2 linked regions of the Homo sapiens genome follow. The protein of the gene in region 2 purifies or fractionates together with the protein of the main gene of each other region. This does not show direct contact. Each region holds a gene or a part of one and is shown on either strand. Other genes may lie near its edges.

Region 1 (12,344 bases), on a different chromosome or scaffold from region 2:
TTTGAGCTGGATCCAGGTTAGAGACACGGATTTGTGGCGTCATCAGCGTGGATGAGACTGCGCAAAGTTGAATGGGAAAATGGCAAACCTAGAAAACAACAAATATCACAGTGCGATACCAGTGTCAGCTTTACGGCTTTTCTCCGTCCTCAGCTTGGAATGAGGAACATCTTTCATTTCACAAGAGGTTCAGGAACTACCAGTGTGAAAAGAGGCTACGTTCAAGCTGCTGGAGGGCCAGTTCCACCTAGGCGCAGTCAAGAAGGGCGCCTGGCTTTCCGGCTTCACGTCCCTGGAAGCTCGGCACTGCAGCGGTTCTAGATCTGGGGCCGCCGGCTGCCTTCCCGACCTACCTCGCTGACTGGGCACCGCCCTTAACGTCACGATCCCGCCCCCGCCAGCGCTCCGACCACAACCCGCGGGAGCCATTGCGTTTGACGTCATCATCGCGCGCCATCTCTTCCCTTAGGTGTTTAAGTTCCGCGCGCAGGCCAGGCTGCAACCTGACGGCCAGATCCCTCGCTGTCCTAGTCGCTGCTCCTTGGAGTCATGTTCCCAGCCGCCCCTTCTCCGCGGACCCCGGGTACCGGGTCCCGAAGGGGCCCGCTGGCCGGACTCGGGCCCGGCTCCACGCCCCGGACGGCTAGCAGGAAGGGTCTGCCCCTGGGGTCTGCAGTCAGCTCCCCAGTGCTCTTCTCGCCGGTCGGCCGGCGTAGCTCGCTAAGCTCGCGGTAAGTGATCTCCCTGGTTGGGTCTGGCAACCAACAGCCTCACGGGCCGCAGTGGGCCGGATAGGTTGTTGTCTTTAGAAGCCTTTGGAACCGGGGCGGCGGAATAGAATGCCACAGTATTGGAAAATAGACCTTTTCCACTGCTGCAGGTAGTATCTGCTTCGTTTTGATTATCAGTTGATCAGTTGATTCCCCACTTTGCATTTTTCATGGATACCTTTGTGCAGAAGTGAAGTACAAACTGGATTTGCATCAGTGTTTACCTACTTCCCACCTACTACCCGTGTGATCTGGTGTAAGTCACTCGTGATTTTCTTCATCTGTGAAATGGCGATAATATATCTCACCTGAGCCAGAGGAGTTATTATGAATTGCCACGATGCAGATGTAAGGTGATGGTGATAATGAGGACCTACAACCCTGAAAGATCATTGTTTAATGCCTAACATACCAACTGACATTAATATCTGATGATTGGTAATTAAAGGGTTTCTAGCTACGGAATTTAACTTTCTAGGTAAATTATAAGGAAAAGGCTTTACATAAGTGAGCTAAGAGTACTGTGATAGTTTAGTTACTAAAACTGCTCGTTTGGAGCACCAGTAAAATCATCACACACACACACCCCTCCCCACCCCCAACACACACCATGTTCATAATTAACCTAAAACTTTAGTGTTTCTGCATAGTTTTCTCTGAATTCATCTATAAAAAATGAATTTTTCCCTGCAGGAAACACAAAGTATTGTGTCTTGAAATTATGGTTAAAATTTATCTGTAAAATTTTTCAGTACTTTAAAGGAGAAGTGGTTTTGAAAGAATACACTGTATCTTTGACTTTTTTTGGCATATTTTGAAAAGTTCTTTTCAAAGTGCTGATCTTGTCAGTGTTTTCTATTCCTTTTGCGAAAAGTTGGAGAATAAAAGCATACTTTATTTACTGTGTGTTGTTTTATTTAAATCTCTTCTTGTGATCATTTGAAGAAAAACCTTTGTTATCCTCTGTCAGGAAACAAAGCCCTTAGCCCTTCTGTATGTGCATCTTCTCATTTAATTCTCGTGATAAGACATAGACTACCTTTTATTCTGGTGACTTTACAATATTCTAAATGTTAAGAGGGTGAGCAAGAAATAAAGTTTTTACTGTGATATCTGCTGTTGAGGACCATGTAACAGCTGATGCTCGTAACCTGTTCGATTTCTTGCTTGGTTGTACAGATCTGATAGTTTTTTTTTTTTTTTTTTTAAAGAGACAGGGTCTCACTCTCTGTCGCCCAGGCTACAGGCTGGTGCCACAATGCCCGGCTAATTTAAAATTTTTTTTGTAGAGACAAGGTCTTGCCACGTTCCCCAGGCTGGTCTTGAACTCCTGGTCTCAAGCAGTCTTCCCGCTTCGGCCTCCCAAAGTGCTGAGATTATAGACATGAGCCACTGCTCCGGCCAGGTCTGGTGGACTCTTAAGCACCTAAAGCTAGATGAGCTTAAATCTCATCTAAGCCAATATTTATAAAATGTATTTGACCACAACATATGGTAAAAGCTGATGTTTTATATTCTGTCTTTCAAAAATGTTGAGATCTGCAAAATGACCCGCTGTTTGAAAAAAAAAAAAAAAAAACACTGGTCTAGTTAAGCCTTATTTCACAGCTAAGGAGGCAGAATTATAAGGAGTTTAAGTGAATACAGGCATGCATTTCAATACTAGAGTCTATGGGATTGAAGCCAAGTTTTCCTAAATCCTGTTTTGTTTTTTTTTTACATGAAAAATATTACATTTAATTACATGGTAAATATGAGCCAGTGTTAATTTTTTTCAAAGAACTCCTTACTGTGAAAATATATACATAAAAAATTAGGATAATGGAGAATTTTAAGTTACAAGTAAGGTAATATAGACTCTTTTCTTTAGGGGAACACCAACACGAATGTTCCCACACCACTCCATAACTGAGTCTGTGAACTATGATGTGAAAACGTTTGGATCTTCTCTTCCTGTTAAAGTCATGGAAGCCCTAACATTGGCTGAAGGTAGGTGTCATCTTTCCATTTACCTATATTAGCAGTTTAAAATGGAGCCTAGATGTGGCATAGAGATTAAATTTATGTTTTCTCTAGTATACCTTTACGTAAATGGTGAGAGATGGGTGGCCTGTCTAGTGTTTTTTTATTTTTATTTTTTCGAGACAGAGTCTCACTCTGTCACCCAGGCTGGAGTGCAGTGGTGTGATCTCAGCTCACTGCAACCACCACCTCCCAGGTTCAAGCGAGTTTCCTGCCTCAGCCTCCCAAGTAGCTGGGATTATAGGTGTGAGCCACCACGCCCAGCTAATTTTTTGTATTTTTAGTAGAGACAGGGTTTCACCATGTTGGCCAGGCTGGTCTTGAACTCCTGACCTCAGGTGATCTGCCCTCCTTGGCCTCCCAAAGTGCTGGGATTACAGGCGTGAGCCACCACATCTGGCCACCTGTCTTAGTTTTTTTTTTTTTTTTTTTTTTTTTTTTTAACTGTAATTGAGATGTATAATACATTCGAGAAGGAGAATGAGTTCATTTGAACACAATCAAATTAAGTCTTTAATGGTTTTAGGTACTGTACAGTAGTCCCCCATTATCTTTGGGGGATATCTTCCAGGATCCCCAGTGGATGCCTGAAACCTTGTATAGTACTAAACCTTATATATACTGTGTTTTTTTAATACATACACACCTATGATAAACTTTAGTTTATAAATTAGGAACAGTAAAGATGAACAACAGTAATAATAAAGTAGAACAATTATAACAATATACCAGCAGCACTACTCTTGTACTTCGTTTGGGGTCATTAACTAAAATGAGAATATAAGCATTGCATTACTGCGACAGTTCATCTGGTAACTGAGACAGCTACTAAGTGACAAACAGCTGGATAGTCTCAGGGGTGTCCAATCTTTTGGCTTCCCTGGGCCACTTGGAAGAAGAATTGTCTTGGGTCACACATAAAATACACTTACGATAGCTGATGAGCTAAAAATAAATAATGAAAAGGTCTGTGTATAAATCTTATCATGTTTTAAGAAAGTTTACAAACTTGTGTTGGACCGCATTCAAAGCTGTCCTGGGCCACACGTGTCCCTGGGCCATGGGTTGGACAAGCTTGGGGTATACAGTATGGATATGCTGCACAAAGGGTTGATTCACAACCTTTAGGCAGGACAGTATGAGATTTTATCACTTTACCCAGAACAGCATGCAATTTACAACTTAGGAATTGTTCATTTGAATTTTCCATTTAATATTTTCAGACTACGATTGACCACAGGTATTTGAAACTGCAGATAAAAGGGGGAAATACTGTATATGCAAAATTCAGTCCTGTTTACAGAGTTGATCAGGTTTATGAAGTTTCCCGTGAAACCCCAAAACTGGCACCTCATGTTATTGGGTTTAATAATACAGTAAAATCAAGTCCTACCTCCATTTCTGGATCCTATGTAGCATCCCAGAGGCTGTGTGCACAAATTTATGACGTTACCATTGTCGTGGTGTACCTTTAGAAGCGTCTGTTGGTGGAGAATTAGTGTGGAATTTTGACAGATACAATCAACACAAGCTTAGAAAGGCAACTTTAAAGATGAGCAGTTGGATGACACTGGAAGAGCAAAGTTCAGAGCAGCCTTAATATCTGCTGAAGTCATTTTTATTAAGGCTTGAATTCTAGATCTTTGTGATTTTTCTGGAACAGTATTTTTCAAATTGTAGGGGTGACCAAAATTTAGCGGTTCTTGACCAGCATTTAAAAAAAGAAGAAATAGAATGCATCTCATATGTTTAGTAAATTTTGTTCGTTTTACTTAAATTGTATATGGGTGTATCGTGATGTAAAATGTATTATACTGTGAATAACTCTATTTACTGTATAACTTAATAACAGTAAAAAAAAAATGCTGAAATTACTCTGTTTTAGAAGAAGGAATATATCTCATCAACTGGAACTTGGCACATCTTGCCTGTAGGTCCTTGGGAGCTTTAGGGATAGTTGTTTTCAGACAACTACTAACCTTTCTATACATTGTTCTGTTTTAAATAAATAAATGTATATATATATATTGGTATATATGTGTATATTTTTCCCCTCTAAAAATTTCAGTTTACATTTAAACCTTTTAATGTACTACTCATATTTTAACAGACTAGATTAAATAACACAGCCCCAAATCTAGAAATTCAGAGAGTCCTTAGAAATTAGGATATATAAAACAAAGAGGTGTGTCAACTTGAAGAACTCTTCCCCACTTAGAAACCTGCCAACTACTGTTAAGTCAGCCCTTAAAGGCACACCGGTCGAGGATCTGGAGTTGTAGTGCTTTCAAGAAAAAGAAAATTACTGAGCAGATAGTTCAGTTGAGCAAAAAGCCTCACTCAGCCTGGGCTTGGTTTGATATTTTTGCTTGTACATTGTCTATGCCTTTTACTTCACCCTTCTACCTTTCTGTAAGTAAAGAGCAAAGCTCAACTTAATAAAATTTCCAGGGCTGTTAACACATTTGTGGAGGTTTACCACCAATACTTAAGATATGTGCTAATTTAGTTTTGTCACTTAATAGAGAACGTAACTCTTTGTCTCCATGTACTAAATAATTTATCATTCCTTTAAGGAGCTCTTATTTGAAAATTATGTGCTTTTGGTCCTCCAAAAGCACATTGTTTTCCTTGAAATGTTTTATATAGTTAATGAGTTTGTTATTTGTTTTACTTTATCGATATAATTATAAATGTTGCTAAATATTTCTTTTTTGTTTGTTTGTTTTGAGACAGAGTCTTGCTCTGTTGCCCAGGCTGGAGTGCAGTGGCGCGATCTCAGCTCAATGCAACCTCTGCCTCCCAGGTTCAAGTAATTCTCCTGCCTCAGCCTCCCGAGTAGCTAGGATTACAGGTGCACGCCACCATGCCCCCATGCCTGGCTAATTTTTTTTTCTATTTTTGGTAGAGATGGGGTTTCATCATGTTGGCCAGGCTGGTCTCGAACTCCTGACCTCATGATCCACCCACCTCGGCCTCCCAAAGTGCTGGGATTACAGGCGTGAGCCACCCTGCCTGGCCTCTCTTTTGTTGTTTCTGCTTACTTATTTTTTGATATGGAGTCTTGCTCTCTTGACCAGGTGGGAGTGATGTGATCATGGTTTACTGCAGCTTCAATCTCCTGGGCTCAAGTGGTTCTCCTGTGCCTCAGTCACCCTAGTAGCTGGGAAGTGCACTGCCAAGCCTGGCTATTTTTTTTTTTTTTTTTTAAGAGAGAGAGTCTCACTATGTTGCCCAGGCTGGCCTCAAGCAGTCCTCCCAGGGTGGCCTCCCAAAATATTGGGATTTATAAGCATGAGCCACTGTGCCTGGCCTAAATATGTCTTATAGGAAATAAGCTATCTGGTCTGTTTGTAACAAAAAATTAAGGAATATTAAATGTCCCAAATACACTTTTTGCCTTTAGATATATTTCTTTTTTCTTTCTTTTTTTTTTTTTTTTTTTTTTGAGATGGAGTCTGGCTCTGTTGCCCATGCTGGAGTGCAGTGGCACGATCTCGGCTCACTGGAACCTCCACCTCCCAGGTTCAAGCGATTCTCTTGCCTCAGCCTCCCAAGTAGCTGGGACTACAGGCACGTGCCACCACACTCAGCTAATTTTTTGTAGTTTTAGTAGAGTTGGAGTTTCACCATGTTAGCCAGGATGGTCTCGATCTCCTGACCTCGTGATCCTCCCACCTCGGCCTCCCAAAGTGCTGGGATTACAGGCGTTAGATATATTTCTAAAGTTGGTTATCAGAGTTAATAGATCTATTGTTTTTGGTGTTGATAATTTTGGAATATTCAAAAGTATTTGTTGTGAGGTAGTCGTTTCTGAGTGTGCCAATTACTTTTTTTTGATAAAGCGTGTGGTAATAAAGATTTATACTATAAGATTAATCACCCACCTCATTTTTTCCTTTAGTCGATGACCAGCTGACCATTAACATAGATGAAGGTGGATGGGCTTGTCTGGTGTGCAAAGAGAAGCTCATTATTTGGAAGATTGCTCTGTCACCTATTACTAAGGTAATGGCTCTTTAGAGAGCTGGAACAAGATAGAGGAGAGGAATGCCAATTGACTTTTCATTTTTACCCTAATTTTTTTACAGTTGGAGGATAGTCAATAGGAAACTACTTAGGCATTAAGAGTTTGCATTTTCATAGTGATGTGAAATAATGAGCATGCATACACATTTGTGTATTGGGAAAAAAGTTTCCCCCTTTTGAAGATCTGTGTTGTTTACATTTAATAAAATTAGAGTCATTGATATTTCCAATGAATATAATGCTAATCCGTCTGCCTAATGAAGTATCAGACTAAATGCTATCCACATAAGCAAATGAACTTTGAGTTTGCGTATTTCTGAGAAGACAGAACTATGTTTTGTTGAACCTACTGAATGATGCTTAATAAAATAAGAAAATATGATACCAGTTGCTAGTTAAACTTTTCACTTGTCCACTTCCAACAGTGGGTTATCATTTGCATGTCTAGTAACGTATCCTCAGCAACCTTTTTCTGTTTGTTACAGCTTAGATACACTACTCTCTTCTACCAGTCATTACTTCCTTGGCCATGTTCCGTTGGAACTCAGGGCTCCTGCTTACCTCAATTCTTCACTTCTGCTGAACTCTGTGTTACTGCTGCCTAGAAAAGGGTGTATGTGGTTAGGAGTAATAGGTGAGGGTGAATTCCTGGGGGACATACTGAGTTAGCTGCGGGATCCTGATATTTGGCTGAGAGTCTAAGAAATTGTTTCCTAGGTAACTTGGTATAATTACTCTTTGGTCATGCTAATTTTAAATGTCAGATGAACAAATCAAGAGTAAATTGGGAAAGTTCCATAGGAAGCCTAAGCACTCATCTTAACCTTACTTAGTCTTCTCTTAACTGGACTTTTCTAGCCCAGGAAGAGGTTAGGATAGTTGTTCTTCAGAGTTTGGTCTACCTTTAAGTTTTCATGATTCAATACTCTTAAGATACTTTGTTTTAAAATTACTGAAAGCCTGATTAAAAGGAGATGTGAGAAGAAAGAATATTTGTAGAATGGTGTTTCCAGCAGTGAGTCAGAATCTAAAATATGCAGAGAAGGGAAATCAGATGCATCTTCAAAATACTGGATTTGATGTGAAAGATTTTCTGTTTGGGTTTGTTCTACAGTTATCCGTTTGCAAAGAACTTCAGCTGCCACCTAGTGATTTCCACTGGAGTGCCGACTTAGTGGCTCTTTCTTACTCTTCTCCCTCAGGTGAAGCACATTCTACTCAGGTAGGTGACTTAAAAGCTTATTTAAATAAACTTTTTACAACAAGGACATCCTAAAGTTAGAGGAATCATCCTCTTTGATTTTGAGATATAACTATAAACCTATAGAAATCAAGATATTGTGGTATTGGCAAAGAGAGCTACACACATAGGTCAGTGTAACAGAATAGAGAATACAGTTATAGATCCACATAAAGGCACCCATTTGGTCTTTGATGAAGGTGCAAAAGCAATTCAGAAAGGATGGTTTTTGACGATGATTTTTCTCTGTATCAATGCATAGTGTAGGAACATTTGTAATTTTAAAATTACAAATGACCAATTTGTATTGTATTGTATTGAATTTTCCCTTAAACCTCATACCTTGTTACAAAGATTAATTTGAAATGGGTCATAGATCTAAATGTAAAACAGTAAAACTTTTAGAAGAAAACAGAAGAAAATCATCATGACCTGAGATTAGACAGAGTTCTTGGAAATCACCAAAAGCATGATCCATAAAAGAAAAGTTTGATAAAATTAATAATAAAATTAAAATAAAATAAAAATTTAAAGCGTTGCTTTGCCAAAGACAAGAAAATGAAGAGACAAGTTACAGAGTAAGAAGAATTTGCAAATCATGTATCCAGCAAAGGACTTGTATCCAGAATATTTTTTAAAATTCTAAACTTGATAAGAAAACAATGCAGTTTAAAAACAGGGGCTAGGACTTGAACAGACACTTAGTGAGGATATAAGGATGGCACATAAGCACATGAAGAGATGTTCAGCATCATTAGCCATTAGAAAAATGCAAACCAAAACACTGGTGAGTTCTTATTTCTGATTTTTCTTGATCAAATAGTAAATTGTCCTGTTTCTTTGTATCATTGCCATCAGACTGCTGGTTTTTGGGTTCCTCTTTTATTGTGATTGCTGATTGTTGTGATCTTGTTTTGAGGCTGTTGCTGTCATGGTTGCCACCAGAGAAGGATCTATCCGCTATTGGCCAAGCCTTGCTGGTGAAGATACCTACACAGAGGCTTTTGTAGATTCGGGAGGTGATAAGACTTACAGTTTCCTAACAGCAGTGCAGGTATACCACGGATATTCCTTTATATTTATTGGAAAGCTGTGATTTGGCTTGGAAATAAATTTTTGTTTTTATTTTTAAATAGAGGTGGGATCTCCTTATGTTGCCCAGGCAATTCTCAAACTCCTGGGCTCAAGCAATAACTCCTGCTTTGGCTTCCCAAAGTACTGGGATTACAAGCATGAGCCACTGCACCCCAGCCGTGGAAATGAGATTTGATGACTAAAAATGTGGGGTTTTAAAGAGACTATAGAGGCCGGGGAGGGATCAAAAAGAGACAAGGAAGAGAAGAATGTAAGGATCTATGATTTGAACAGTTAGACAAGGGAGGCTCTTCTCACAGGACTCCAAAATATCAATTTCAGATAGTAGCTTGTGATATGAATTTCTTTTAGAAACATTTTATAAGATTGGCTTAAAAACTGTCAGACACTATAAAGAATGGCTTGCATTATCTTCTTTGTAGGTTCACAAAGAAACAAAATCTGGCTGAGCATGGTGGCTCATGCGTGCAGTCTCACCACTTTGAATGGCTGAAGCGGAAGGATTGCCTGAGGCCAGGAGTTCAAGACTAGCCTGCGCCATAAAACAAAACTTTGTCTCTACAAAAAAATTTAAAAATTATCTGGGCATAGTGGTGTGTGCCTGTAGTCCCAGCTGCTCAGGAGGCTGAGGCAAGAGGATCTCTTGAGCCCAGGAGATTGAGGCTGCAGTGAACTATGATCTCACCACTGCACTTCTGCCTGGGTGACAGAGCGAGACCCTATCTCTAAAAAAATAAAATAGCAAACAAAAAATATAAATAAATAAAATCTGATAACCTAATTTGTTGAATCTGAAATATGATGAACTTGTAGTTTAAAAATCAGAATTTAAAAAATATGCAATTTTTTTCTGCTACAAAAGTTGTTTTTTTTTTTTTTCTTTTTTCGAGACACAGTTTTACTCTGTCACCCAGGCTGGATTGCAGTGGCGCAATCTCAGCTCACTGCAACCTCTGCCTCCTGGGTTCAAGCAATTCTTGTGCCTCTGCCTCCCAAGTGGCTGGGATTACAGGTGCGCACCGCCACGCCCAGCTAATTTTTGTATTTTTAATAGAGACGGGGTTTCACCCCGCCTTGGGCTCCCAAAGTGCTGGATTACAGGTGTGAGCCACCATGCCTGGCCAGTTTTTTTCTTATGAGAGTTTTTCTATGTAGGATTAATAATATTAACTGAATGGATTCTGAAATATATTACTTTAATAAAATAACAACGTTCTATTTTGTATTCTTTTAGATTTATTTCAATTACGATGATTTTTCTCTGTATCAAAGAATTTTTCATTTTATCTTAGCATTCGATGCTAAACTGAACTAACCTCATAATGTTTTTTCACAGGGAGGAAGTTTTATTTTGTCTTCATCAGGAAGCCAACTAATTCGGTTGATACCTGAGAGCTCAGGAAAGATTCATCAGCATATCCTGCCTCAGGGGCAAGGCATGCTTTCAGGAATTGGTCGAAAAGTTTCTTCTCTTTTTGGAATTTTATCTCCTAGTAGTGATCTCACAGTAAGTTTATAAAATAACTATTTTACAAGCTTATTTCTTAGTTAAATCAATAAGTTGAAAGTATCCTCTGAATTTAGTATTCCTCCATATGGACAGTAGCTTATGCGAAATAAAACCTTTGGTCTTTTTAGTGAACTATTTTTATTATGATGAAATGAGATCATACTAACCTTCTCCCATAACTTGTAACACTAAAATCTTTAAATCAGACAGATTATCTCACAAGTACATTTTTTGAACTAAAACTATTATGTAAAATATAAAATGTGTTTCTTAAAGATTAATTTGACTTTTTAGATTTAACCAGAAGCGTGTTTCTACTCATGCCTCCAGCTGTCTGTGTGGATGACTGAAATCTAGATCTGTTGGCTGGACTTCTCTGCACCATACTCTAGCATAGTGAAGGGAAGATGATGGGAACTAATATTTATGGACCATCTACTCGCTGCTCGGTGCTCTATAGTTGTTATATTCATATTGTGTAATCATTGTGACAACCTGTAAGGTAGCATGCTTTCCCGCCAGTTTACAGATGAGGAAGCACCCTCAGCAAGGCTGAAGGTGTGTAACTGCTGAGTGGCAGAGCTGGGAATCATACCCAGGCCTGTCTGAATTTAAAGAACATGCTCTTTTTACTGTGCTGTTTCCCTCTTGTTTCAGATAATTATCACCTGCTTCCTTGAATGTTCTTTAAACCTAAACTTAACATGTTTAAAAACAAATTTATTGTGTTCTTTCATCTCTCCTATTGGCTACTCACTTAACCCTATAAAACTCATTTCTCTTTTGACCTGTTTTTGTTAAGAGCACCATCCCTTTTTTCAGTGACCCAGGTATAAAACCTTGTTATTTTTTGTGTCTCCCTCTCCTTCTATAGCAAACTAGTTATTTACCAGGTGCTGTAGATTTAACTTCTATCCAATCTCATTTCCATCCCCATCTTTCTGCTTTTGATGTTATGCCCTAACCTATACTCTTGATAAATTTCACCTAAGCTCCTGGTACCTGCTCAGTTTACTTACTGTTGGCCTTTCTGCCCTATCAGTGATGCGTTTTAACACAAAACAGTCATGTATATCCAGCTTTAAAAAGCCGAATATCTATACTTCATGATTAAGTATATACTGAAAAGGCAAAATAACACTCCTCTTCATGACTAACTACATACATTCTGCCAAATGCATTCAAACACAATTCTGTGTTCAGAAGCTATTGATAATATCTCCCTTGCTTGCTACACTTACCAATTCACATTCAACACTCTCTGCTATATGTCCCTGATTTTTCATTATTTTTTATTTTTATTTATTTTTAAAAATAGAGACAGGGTCTCAGCATTTTGCCCAGGCTGGTCTCAAGCTCCTGAGCTCAAATGAGCCTCCCTCCTTGGTATCCCAAAGTGTTGGAATTACAAGCACGAGCCACCACGCCTGGCCTCATTATTTTTCAAAAAATCCTTATTTTTTCTTCTTTTCTACTTGTCATCTACATTCCAATGTAACAGGATGACTTCTTGTTCTCCAAAGACGCTGTAACTTTCCCACCTTTCAGCTCTTCTCCTCTTGGGCTTTCCACCTGTATCCTTCTTCCTATAGATCCAACCTTGCCCTCAAGCTCTATTTCAGGATCACTCATTTCTGGTTTGTTTTGTTTGTTTGTTTTGGAGATGGAATCTCACTCT
Region 2 (12,344 bases):
TAGCATTGCGATACGATTTGAAATAAAGAAGTGTGAGAACTTCAGCTTTCTCAAGATTGTTTTGGTCATTTGGGGTCCTTTGAGGTTCCATCTGAATTTTAGGATGGCTTTTCTGTTTCTGTAAAAAGTGCCACAGAGATTGATAAAGACGTCATTGAATTTGTAGAGCTTTGGGTAGCACAGACACTTTAACACTATGAAATCTTTCAATCCATGAACACAGGCTGTCTTTCTATTTATTTGTGTCTTTAATTTCTTTCTGCAATGTTTTGTAGCTTTTAGTCTTTGGCTTCGTTGGTTGTCTAGTGAGGGTTTATATGAAAGGGGATACTGTGCACTACATTAGCATTTATTTTGCACCTCTATATATTTATACATTGCACAAGAATGCCATGGCCGGGTGCAATGGCTCATGCCTGTAATTCCAGCACTTTGGGAGGCCAAAATGGGCAGACTACTTGAGCCCAGGCGTTCCAGACCAGCCTGGGTAACATGGCAAAACCCCATCTCTACAAAAAAAAAAATACAAAAATTAGCCGGGTGCAGTGGCGTGTGCCTGTAGTCCCAGCCACTTGGGAGACTGAGGTAGGAAAATCTCTTGAGCCCGGGAGGCGGAGGTTGTAGTGAGCTGATATCATGCCATTGCACTCCAGTCTGGGTGACAGGAGCGAAACCCTGTCTCAACAACAACAAGAATTCCGTGTCATCTTTAGCAGGTTGAAAAGTGCCCTCACGCCAGGCACAGTGGCTCCCGCCTGTAATCCTAGCACTTCCGGTGGCCAAGGTGGGTGGATCACTTGAGGTCAGTTTGAGACCAGCCTGGTCAACACGGCGAAATCCCATCTCTACTAAAAACACAAAAATTAGCTGGGCATGGTGATGTGCACCTATAATCCCAGCTACTCGGGAGGCTGAGGCAGGGAGAATCACTTGAACCTGGGAGGTGGAGGTTGCAGTGAGCCGAGATCACGCCAATGCACTCCAGCCTGGGTGACAGAGCGGGACTCCCTCTCAAAAAAAAAAAAAAAAAAAAGTGTCCTCAAAAAGATAAGTCTATGTGTTAACCCCTGGTAACTACGAGTGCTGCCTTATTTGAAAATAGGGTTTTGCAAACATGATTAAATTAAAGGATACTAAGATGATCATCCTGGATCTAGGGTGGGCCCAAAATTTAACAATGAATGAACACAAAAAAGGATAAACACAGAGGAGATATGAAGGGTAAGAGATTGAAGTGATGCATCAACAAGGCAAAGAAAGTCAAGGACTCCTGGCTACCATCAGAATCTAGAAAACAGGCATGGAATGGATTCTCCCTCAGAGCCTAATAAACCAACCCCACTGATAACTTGATTTTGAATATGTGCCTCCAAAACTGTGATAATAAATTTCTGTTGTTGTTTTAAGTCATCATGTTTGTGGTGGTTTGTTATGGCAACAGTGGGAAATAAAGACGCCATCATAAATAGTATACAAATATATGACTGTTTCATTAAATTGCTTAACAGATGTTGAGTATCAAGTTATCCCCTAAAAATGTGCCATATTTTAACAACATTTTCATTTGATTAACCAAGTCAGCCTAGTGGTGCCTTTATTACTTCTTAGCTATGCAACTTGAAGATGACATTTAAAAACTCAGGGCTCAGTTTCCTCCTCAATAAAGTAAAGGAGACTAGATTAGTTTACTTCTAATGCCCTTTGTATTAATAAATGAAAGCACTCTATCAATCTCATTTTAAAATGCAAATGTACACTCTTATCATTACTTTCATTTAACCTAACAAATACCTATATTTAATTAACAATGAATTATAAAAATAGGTGCTTTGATTTGGGACATTACAGGTCTGGCAAAAAGCAAAAAAAACCAAGGAAAGCCAAAACCCAACCAGGTCCGCTTTGTGGTCCTGATGGTGAAACTGGCCCAACTTCCCCACAGAACTAATGTTCATGGTTTGGAGATAATTACAGAGATTGACTCTCCTGATCTTAAAGCCTGAAAACTTGTATTTGTCTCCTCTGAGTTCCTTTCTCAGGAAACCGACCTTCAGGCCTCCCAGATAGCATAAAGGAACTAAAACTTACCAGATCATTGCATCTGCACAATGAGGCACCAGACCCCTCGTTTGTCATGACTGGTTCCTTACACCCCACAATTCCTGTCTTTCCACATGTAGTTGCATTTCTTCCCTGCTATATAAACCCCTAATTTTAGTGGGTTAGTGAGATGGATTTGAGACTTATCTCCTGTCTCCTCAGCTGCAGCACCTGAATAAAGCCTTCTTCCCTTGCAATACTTGTTGTCTTAGTCACTGGCTTTCTGTGTGGTATGCAACAGGGCCTAGACCAACCCCTTGTATTTCGGTAACAATGGCAACACGTTAAGAAAAAAAATAATCCCCTCCTATGCTGCATTTGGCACACACATGGTATGATAGGTTGCTAATGCCCAAGTTTTGATATCAGAACTTTGCCCAATTTAGTTCAACATCCCCTGTCTAGGCTAGTCAGCTTCCCTTTGGTTGTCCTGTCAGTCTATCTCCCCAACCATTCTTCACACTTCTTTCACAAGTGGACAAGACAAGGAAAAAAAAGGGGAAAAGGAGGCGAAAGAAAAGGCCTAAGAAACACTGAAGAAATACGTGTCGGCTGTTGGGGGAAAATGTTTCAAGTATGTTAAGGGTGGTCCAAGTGTGCACATGGACATTATGATATATACACACAGTAATGCTCAAACAGTACATTCATAACCCCAAACTGCAAATATAGTATTAATAGAATGCATAAACTGTAACAGACTCACAATGAAATACTACATAGTAATAAATAACTAGATCTACAAGTAGAAACTTGGATGAATCTCATATATATAATGTGAAGTGAACAAAGCAGGACAAAAAAATACATATAGTATTATTATATTCATAAGAAAGTTCATAAGCAGGCAAAATTAAGCTATATTGCTTAAGGATGCATCAGTAACTGATAAAACTATAAAAAAAAGCAAGGAGATGATTATCCTAATAAACATGAAACTGATAGCCTTTAAGGGGAAGGAAGAAGGCTGATTGGAGAGGGGCACACTGGCAGCCTCAAGTGTTAGTAATGTCCTATCTCTTGACCTCTGTGATTTCATGAATGTTTACTTTATAATAAACATGTTAAAATGCACATATATACTCTGTGATGGTTAATATTAAGTGTCAACTTGCTTGGATTGAAGGATACAAAGTACTGGTTCTGGGTGTATCTGGGTGTTTCTGGGTGTATCTGGGTGTCAAGAGATTAACATCTGAGTCAGTGGAGTGGGAGGGGAAGACCCACCCTCAGGAAGACACACCCATAATGTGGGTGGGCACGATCCAACTGGCTGCCAGCACAACTAGAAAAAACAGACAGATGGAGGTGGAAGGAGATGACTTGCTGAGTCTTCCAGCTTTCATCTTTCTCCTGTAGTTGGATGCTTCCTGCCATTGAACATCAGACTCAAGTTCTTCAGCTTCTGGACTCTTAGGCTTACACCAGTGGTTTGTCAGGGGCTCTTGGGCCTTAGGCCACAGATTGAAGGCTGCAATGTTGGCTTTCCTACTTGTGAGGTTTTGGGACTCAGACTGGCTGCCTTGCTCCTCAGCTTGCAGACGCCTTATTGTGGGACTTCATCTTGTGATCGTGTGAGTCAATACTCCTTAATAAACTCCCCTTCATATATACATCTATCCTATTAGTTCTGTCCTTCTAGAGAACCCTAATACATACTCTATGTGTGTTTAAACACGTATGTTATATTTTATACATGCAAATAAAGGGTAAGAAAAACTGTAAAACAAAGCTTATTCTACCTAATTCTTCTCCTTTGAATTTGTCCAATTATTATTTTGGGAATTCATTATTTATTTGCTCATAGGAAACTCTAGACAAATTTGCCACAATAATATCACTCATGTTGAGGGTCTCCTACGGATTTCCTCAGTTATAGCATAATGAAATCATAAAACTTTGTTCAAAATGTCATCTCTAAAACAGATAAAAGCTATTTTGGAAGTTGTTAAAAGAAACATCCCAACTAAAAGGGTTTGTAAAGAGGTATTAATAGCAAAATGAAGCCAAGTTCAGTAAAAATGTCAGCAAATAGAGGAGTTACAGTAATCAAAGAATACTTACTTAAAAAGAAAATTAATAATCTTACTGGGATCTAAATAAAACCAAACAAACAAACCCAGAAAACTTTATGGCCAGCCTTGTGTTGCCCCACTTTTCTTTGAATCCTTGCTGTTTCAGGGATATTTAAGTCCTTCTTTAATTGAACCAGAAAACCTCAGAGAACTGAAATAACATGAACAATGAATTCTCTAGCCACTACGCAAGAAAAGCAAGTAGGGATGGAAAGAGTAGAAAGGCAGGGAGAAAGAGAATTTAAGGCAACTACATGCTAATGATAAGCCATCATGAAGGATTTCTAAATGTAAGATAAAAATTAATGATGATAAGAGAGATGCTGAGTTATACCTTAGTCATGGTGATAGACTACTATTTATTTTAGAATACTATAAAAAAGCAAAGTAAAGAAAGTACAGAGAGTTACTATAGTATAATCACAATTATGTACAATTATGTACAAAAATGAAAAGGGTATTGGGAGTATAGGTGGCATTCTTCTCCTTATTTTCTGTGTTTTCTAAATTTTATTAAGCATTCATTATTTTATAATAAAAATAATTTATTTGAAAACAAGATTGTGCCTTCAGGTTGCTCTAAAAATAGTCTAAAATTAATGGCCTGCTAATGTCTTTTGAATTTGTTACTGAATTTGTATAGTTCCAAAAAGGTCTTGAGACAGTTTACCAAAAAATAAGAAAAATCCAACCAAACAAAAACACCAACCAGAAATGATGAAACACAGCAAATTCACTAAAAAGAGGACAGGAAAACAAGTACTAAGCAACAAGGAAAGCATAGAATACAACAGCTGAATATGTAGATTAAAGAGGTATCACAAAACTTAAAACCAAGGGAAGAAGACTGTTTCCACAGCTTTAAAAATTTAAAGAATCAAAGAGACTTGTTCTTGTTTAGGTCTAGATATTGTGACCACTTTCTTTTAATATAAAAGGAAATCAACAGCACACCAGCTGTTGGCAATGACATTACGTGTGCTGACAAAAGCTATTGTGTAGATTATTCAATTAAGTTAGCTAAATATCGGTAAAGGCTTCTAGGAAAAAACATGCAACATCTTCACAACCTATAAGAAATCACACAAAGATTTCTAATAGAAGAAACAAATATACCAAAAAAGCGTCAGCATTATCACTCATCATGGAAATGTCATTGTGGCATCAACCAGAATGGCTAAAATTAAAAAGACAGGCTGGGCACAGTGGCTCATGCCTGTAATCCTAACACTTTGGGAGGTCAAGGTAGGTGAATTGCTCGAGCCTGGGTGCTCGAGACCAGCCTGGGCAACATGGCGAAACCCCATCACTGCAAAAAATACAAAAAATTAGCCGGGAGTGGTGGTGCATGCCTGTAGTTCCAGCTACTTGGGAGGCGGAGGTGAGAGGGAGGGTTGAGGCTGAGCCAAGGGAGGTTGAGGCTGCAGTAAGCTGTGATTATGGGTCTGGCTGTCAGCCTGGGAGATAGAGTGAGACCATGTACCAAAAAAATAAAAAAAAAAAAAAGAAAGATTGACAATAGCAAATATTGGAGAATAGGCCAGGTATGGTGGCTCATGCTGTCATCCCAGCACTTTGGGAGGCCAAGGCACATGGATTGCCTGAGCTCAGGAGTTTGAGGCCAGCCTGGGCAACAGGCAAATCCCTGTCCCTACAAAAAATACCAAAATTAGCCAGGCATGATGATGGGCGCCTATAGTCCCAGCTACTCAGGAGGAGGCTGAGGTGGGAAGACGGCTTGAGCCTGGGAAGCAGAGATTGCAGTGAGTGGAGATGGTGCCACTGTACTCCAGCCTGGGCAATAGAGCCAGACCTTGTCTCAAAATGAATGAATGAGTGTTGGAGAGTAGGAAGACCACCCTTAGATTATTGGGGAAAAGACAAAATGGTAGAACCACTTTAGAAACTGGCATTTTCTTAAAATGTTAAACATACATCTACCCTGTGACTCAGCAATTCTACTCCTAAATTAAATCATATAACCACCCAAAGCAGTATTCAGCAAAAAATAATAACTAAAGCCTAGAAACTGTATTGGTACCTATTTACAGAAGAATGAATAAACAGACTATGGTCTATTGATACACTGTAATGGAGTACTACTTAAAAAGCACTGGTATACATAACAATGTGGAAAAATTGCAAAAACAAGCCAGACACAAAAGACATTCTGTATGATCCCACTTATATGAAGTTCTAGAATAGGCAAAACTGATTTCTGGTAATAGAAATCAGATCAATGGTTGCTTCTGCAGGGAGTGGGGTACAATGATTAACTGGGAAGAAGTATGACGAAACTTTCTTGGGTGACAGAAACAGTGCATGAATAGGGTGTGGGTTGTACAAATATACGTATTTGTCAAAACTGATCAAACTATACCCTTAAGAGCTGAGAATTTCAGAGTATCTAAATTATCCCTTAATTTAAAAAAAACGAAGTTAGCTTAATAGTTGATAACTTTTAGTTCCTAAGTACTGTCTACTAAAAGAAGACACATCTTTTAGATTTGACATTTGTAGAAGGCAAGGCTAGTGTTTTGTAACAGATCTTAAATAACCTAACATATTCTTGCCCCTGTAAAGAGGGCTTCAGCAGGCATTGCTAGGATTTTTTTCTCAGAAAACCATCATTCCTTTTAAACACTTTCACAAAAACTGAAGTCCAGGACCAGAACTTACAGATTTATATACTGTTGGACAAAAAAATGTGATCTTGGCCTATGGGTGGGGAAGGAAAGCTCATTAATGTCTCAACCAAATTTAGTTATTTTAAGTTATACTTTCAATAAAGTTGTAAATTCAGTGAACAATCTGTAAAGACCTTGATTCAGATGAATCTCACGTAAAAGGTTTTGTAGTTTGGCTCAAACACATGGTCAAGGCATCATAGTCATGGCTGTATATTTAAATCACAAATTCAGATGATAAGCCTAAATTATTAAGTAGTAGCAAATATCAAAATATCTAATATCTTGGATTGTGGAAAATGGAAATTGAGAAAAAAGTATCTATGATCAGACTTCCAATCATGTAACACAATCAAAGTACATTAGTAAGGAATGCATTTGGTACTGTTAAACTTACTTGATTACTGGAGGCAATGAATCAAGTCTAGTCTCTGGGCTCCAAGCTATGCCATCAACCCTGACTCCATGGTGAAATGTTCGAAGTGTTTTATACTGAATGCCTTCAACGTCTGCTTCTTCTTCCTAAGCATACACAGTAAATGTTTTAATAAGTAATGAGAACAAACAATATAATATTCTGTATTTCATTATAATGAATTTATCAGGAGGTTATGCTTATGCTTTTGAAAAGTTCAAAAGCAAATTACATATTAAGATTTAACTAGTTCATTGAATTAAAAAAAAATCCAAAGTTGTCTAAGCCTCACAAAATAACTCTCTAAGGCAACTAGAAACAAATGGTAAACATGTTCTACTTTATCTTAGGAGGCATTTCATAATAAGTTCAATGAAAATGGACTGCTTGGTCAGGCGTGTTGGCTCACGTCTATAATCCCAACACTTTGCGGGGCTGAGGTGGAAGGATTGCTTGAGCTCTGGAGTCTGAGACCAGACTGGGCAACACAGTGAGACCTGTGTCTACGTTATAAAAAAAGAAAACAAAGAAAATGGAATGCTCTAAAGAATCAAGATATTCTAGGTAAATGAATTACCAGAACCGGATTATCTACTGACAATATTAAAAAAATACACTGTACATTCTCACTACATGGAAAATACTTTGGGACCTTATAAAGACCTCAAAGTCTTTATAATCAGTGTCAATGATTTTCATGTAGTGTTACATGTGGCATTATATGTGTGTAAGATGCTACAAATAATTCATCTGAACTATTATTGTTTATGAATAGTGAATATGTAATAAATAATCTGGCTAATTTAGTTTTAGATATTTGATTCTGGGAATAAATGCTTAATAAAGTTGGCTTATTTATCCAGTTCAGCCCTACTAAAATGATTTCAGTTTATCCTCACGGGAAGGTGAGAAAAAAAATCAACTTTAAAAGTCAAGCCATCTGTCGCTGGCAATGGAGACAATAACCTGAAAAGTTCTCCCATTACAACATTGCAAAAATTCAAATACAGACAAGCAAACGACTACCAAGGTATGCAGCTGTTATAAGGGTATCTGCCTACATGCAATGATTTAAAGCTTCAGTTTGCAAGAGAGAAGAGACAAATCCTAGTGCCTGCACAAGGAAGGATGCCAGATCAGAGATTTCTGCATAGATCCAGGGCCCGATTAAGGGGAAAGCAGGAAAAAACAGACAAACAAAAAGAAAATCCTGCCATGCAAAATACCTACCATGAGTAAGGGAAGGATACTTAGGGGGCTTCAAAAGAATTGCTAATGTTCCTTTTCTTAAACTAAGCAGCAGGTATACAGGGATCCATCTTATTACTCTTTATGCCTTTATGGATAACACATTTTTTATAAGCATTAAAATACTGCTCAGCACCATAGGAAAGGTAAAAAAGAAAATGATAAAAAAATTTTGCAATTTTAAAAATAAGTAAATCATCCTTCTGTTATTTAAATCAATACCTGAACTGGGTTTGAGACTAAAGAAGGCCAAATTTTCGCGACAAATTTGTCCAAGGAATCTTCTGTGCTAACTACAGTTTTCTTTATAAAAGTGTATGGTATTATAAAGTATCAGGGAAAAAATCCAGCAGGTGAAACTTGATATTTAATGAAATACGTATGTCTATATTGATAGGAATTACTTGAAGGCCTGATCTAAGCATTCCATTCACCCAGAATCTAAATGCAAAGTTTTATAATGTATACTCGAATGAAATCCAAGTAGATATACTGATTTTTCCAGGATAGCCTATGGGATCCCAGTAAAGTCATTTCACAAATATACTACACATCTTTCTCTGCATAATTCAGATACCCTTTGAAAATAACTTCAAATTTCAGGTGAACTTAAGAGTTAACAGCAAAAAGTTTTTCCACAAATGAAAGAAATACACTTATCAAGGAAAGAAAAACACTGTCAAATTTTACTACTTCGTAATTTGTGTGTATAATAGTTGTATAGCTAACAGCCAGATATGCCAAGACAGCAGCCACTAAACAATTTTAAAATAAGTTTAGGAGCCTAATCATAGCTGACTTCACAGTTTGGATTACATCTATTTTTCCAAACTTGACAAATCAGTCTCCTAAAAATGAAGTTTTTGCATGTAAATACACATCATCTTGCTACTGTAACAATATTGTTGACAATCAAGTCCTTTAATTTGTTACCCAAATCACATATGGAATTACTGGGTGGTCATGGGGATAAAGAAATCTCAGGGACTGTACAGCCTGGGCTTTTTGTTTTACCAGTGAAACCTGTTTTCCTGGCAGCACTGTTTGCCACTGAGCCAACTAAAAGGCCCGTGTGTGTGTGTGGTATAGGCAGAGACAAATGCTATTTTGGATTTAGTTTGGGGTATAAGCAGAATTGTATAGGCAGGAAATTAAGATACTTTGGAAAACTTGCTATAATACAAATGATTATACAAGGTTTCGGCATATTTGAGGTTGGGGCAAAGCCAGGTTGATGGAAGGGCTATTATAAGGGTTTGAAACTGGCAGGCCCTCCCACCACACCCATTTAAGGCCAAATACAAATTTCAGTTAGTCAAGACTGTGAAGTTTCTCTAGTTCAATTCTTTCCCCCCAATGCTTGAATCCCTAGGAGAGCATCTGAAAAAAAGAGTTTACACAACCCCTCTCTGAACACTTCCAGTGACAGGGAACTAGCTATTTCTTTGGGAAGTTTATTCAATTGGGGGATAGCTCTAATTATTAGAAGAGTTCTTAACGTTAAGCCAAAATCTGTTTCCATGTAAATTCTACTCATTATTCCACGTTCCATCTCTGGAACCACACCAAATCAGTCTAACTTAATGATGACAAATATCTGGCCATAGCTGATCTCCTCTAGGTGAAGACACACTAAGCAGCAGATTCAGCCTCAGCCTGAAAGCATTATAAGCAACAACTCTGTCCATTCAAATAGAGATGACAAATAACATAAAATCCATTTACCATTGAGTCTAATACCTCTTTCACAGTTTTAAACATTTAGATACTACCCTGAAATTTGTATTAAAATACATTATCTTCTCTGAATCATAATATACTGCTGAGAACTACAGAGTATTATTATTATATTAAAGATTACTGTCGATTTACAGAGGAAGATGCAGAGAGAACTGTGCTGTCTGATATGGTGGCCACTAGCCACACAGGACCTTATGAAGCACGTGAAATGTGGCTAGTTCTATTTGATATGTGTACACTTTAAAAAGTGTAAAATACATACCAGATTTCTAAGTCTATTCAAGGGGTCTTCATTAGTGAATTGAGGCCTCTAGTAGAACTTGGATGAGAACATTGATTTAGGCAAGCATATATGTTCATGCTCCTCTGCCCTTTAACAAAGGTTTTTATAGCAGTTTTCTTATTGCACTGCTTTATATGTAAATATTTCCTTAAGGATATGGTCCTTGCTTTTTTCATGTCTTGGCACCCAGTATGCACTTAATGAAAATTTGACAAATACACGACACCAGTTAACAGTACTATCATTCAGAAGCTCATATGTCCATCATAATCAAAGGGACAACATGAGATTCTGAAAAATGCTTTATTGAAATTCAAATTCACTATATCTACAACGTTTTCTAAACAGCCTTAAAATAAGGATTATCTTTCTGTCAGGAATGTGAAAATCTTTCCACTTAATTTACCTTTACTTAGTTTTCTCTCAAGACAAGAGGCATGAAACTGGGTGCAATGGAACTTGAAGGTTCTAGGACAACAGAATAGTAATGTTTAACAGTGTTTAGCTAGATAAAAAATAACTCCACAGAAAAGCAATAATTTATTTTGAAATGGACTTACTTAATTGTATTTCCAATGTCTGATGCAGAATATAATTTGTGTTTACTATTGTCCAAATTAATAAAAATCTAATTTTTTCCTTAGTAATTTGGGCACGAGACCTACATTGCTAATCTCACAGGTATGAGGGTAACTGAGACAATACATGTGACCATAAACTATAACAGAACACAAATGTTTATACTAGTTCTTTTTTCTCATGTTAGTCATTTTCCTTCTTTCTCCCAACTTCTCCCTCTCTCATCTTTGCCTCTCTTTTCCTAATTTGTTCTCCACTGACTTTCTCCCTCAACATTTCTTAATCATAAATGAGATAAACATTTTTCAGTGTTTGCGAATACAATCCTATGTTGTTATTAATTTTAAAAGTAATGAAGTAAAAATTAGTTTTACCTGTAGGAGGCTGCTTTACTCTTTTGTACATTGGTGGCTTGCATTAGAGAAATGGTTTTTCCTCAGTCTTTTTCAAGTACGTAACATTGTCTTAATCATATGACTTTTTATGATCCTAAACCATGTCCATGTAAGTCAGGCTAGGGTCATATTTAGTCTAAAAGCTATTAATTTCTACTCCCACCCAAACAGACAGTACGAAATAGGCTAGGAGCTGTCATATTCTACTCAGACAGCAACAAACTGAAACTTTCAATTCACACTTCCTCTTAAATATGACTATATTCCAATTTGTAAAGCTTTATATATTCATTGTGCTATAAAATGCCAAATTGCATTTTTGATGTCAGAATACTGTAAGATACAGAATTGCCGCTGGGCATGGTGGCTCACGCCTGTAATCCCAGTACTTTGGGAGGCTGAGGCGGGCGGATCACGAGGTCAGTTCAAGACCAGCCTGACCAACATGGTGAAACCCCGTCTCTACTAAAGATACAAAAAAGTTAGCTGGGCATGGTGGCACGTGCCTGTAATTCGAGCTACTCAGGAGGCTGAGGCAGGATAATTGCTTGACCTCGGGAGGCAGAGGTTGCAGTGAGCAGAGATCGCACCACTGCACTCCAGCCTGGATGACAGAGCGAGACTCCGTCTCAAAACAAAACAAAACAAAAACAGAATTGCCTTCTCAGTAAAGGAGGAAATAACATTTATAATAACTATCACTTTAGTGATAGTTATTTTAAATCTTTGAAAATTGGACACTTCCAAATTACCGTGCTCATTATAATTTGAGAAATACGGTTCTATTAATAATATTCTGCTAGGCCAGGCAGGGTGGCTCAC

What was found.
Region 1: the proteins of NUP37 (region 2) and NUP133 purify together in Homo sapiens (affinity purification with mass spectrometry; 4 studies listed by BioGRID and IntAct, with this or other methods). This does not show direct contact.

Annotation. Positions count from the first base shown.
Region 1 is NC_000001.11:229,496,455-229,508,798, reverse strand, and holds the start of NUP133 (nuclear pore complex protein Nup133), read left to right. Parts: upstream 1-457; 5' UTR 458-549; coding exon 550-731; intron 732-2,640; coding exon 2,641-2,759; intron 2,760-6,696; coding exon 6,697-6,800; intron 6,801-7,935; coding exon 7,936-8,043; intron 8,044-8,980; coding exon 8,981-9,115; intron 9,116-10,492; coding exon 10,493-10,663; intron 10,664-12,344. UniProt on the Homo sapiens protein: Involved in poly(A)+ RNA transport. Involved in nephrogenesis.
Region 2 is NC_000012.12:102,104,849-102,117,192, forward strand, and holds part of NUP37 (nucleoporin Nup37), read right to left. Parts: intron 7,385-12,344; coding exon 7,260-7,384; intron 1-7,259. UniProt on the Homo sapiens protein: Component of the Nup107-160 subcomplex of the nuclear pore complex (NPC). The Nup107-160 subcomplex is required for the assembly of a functional NPC.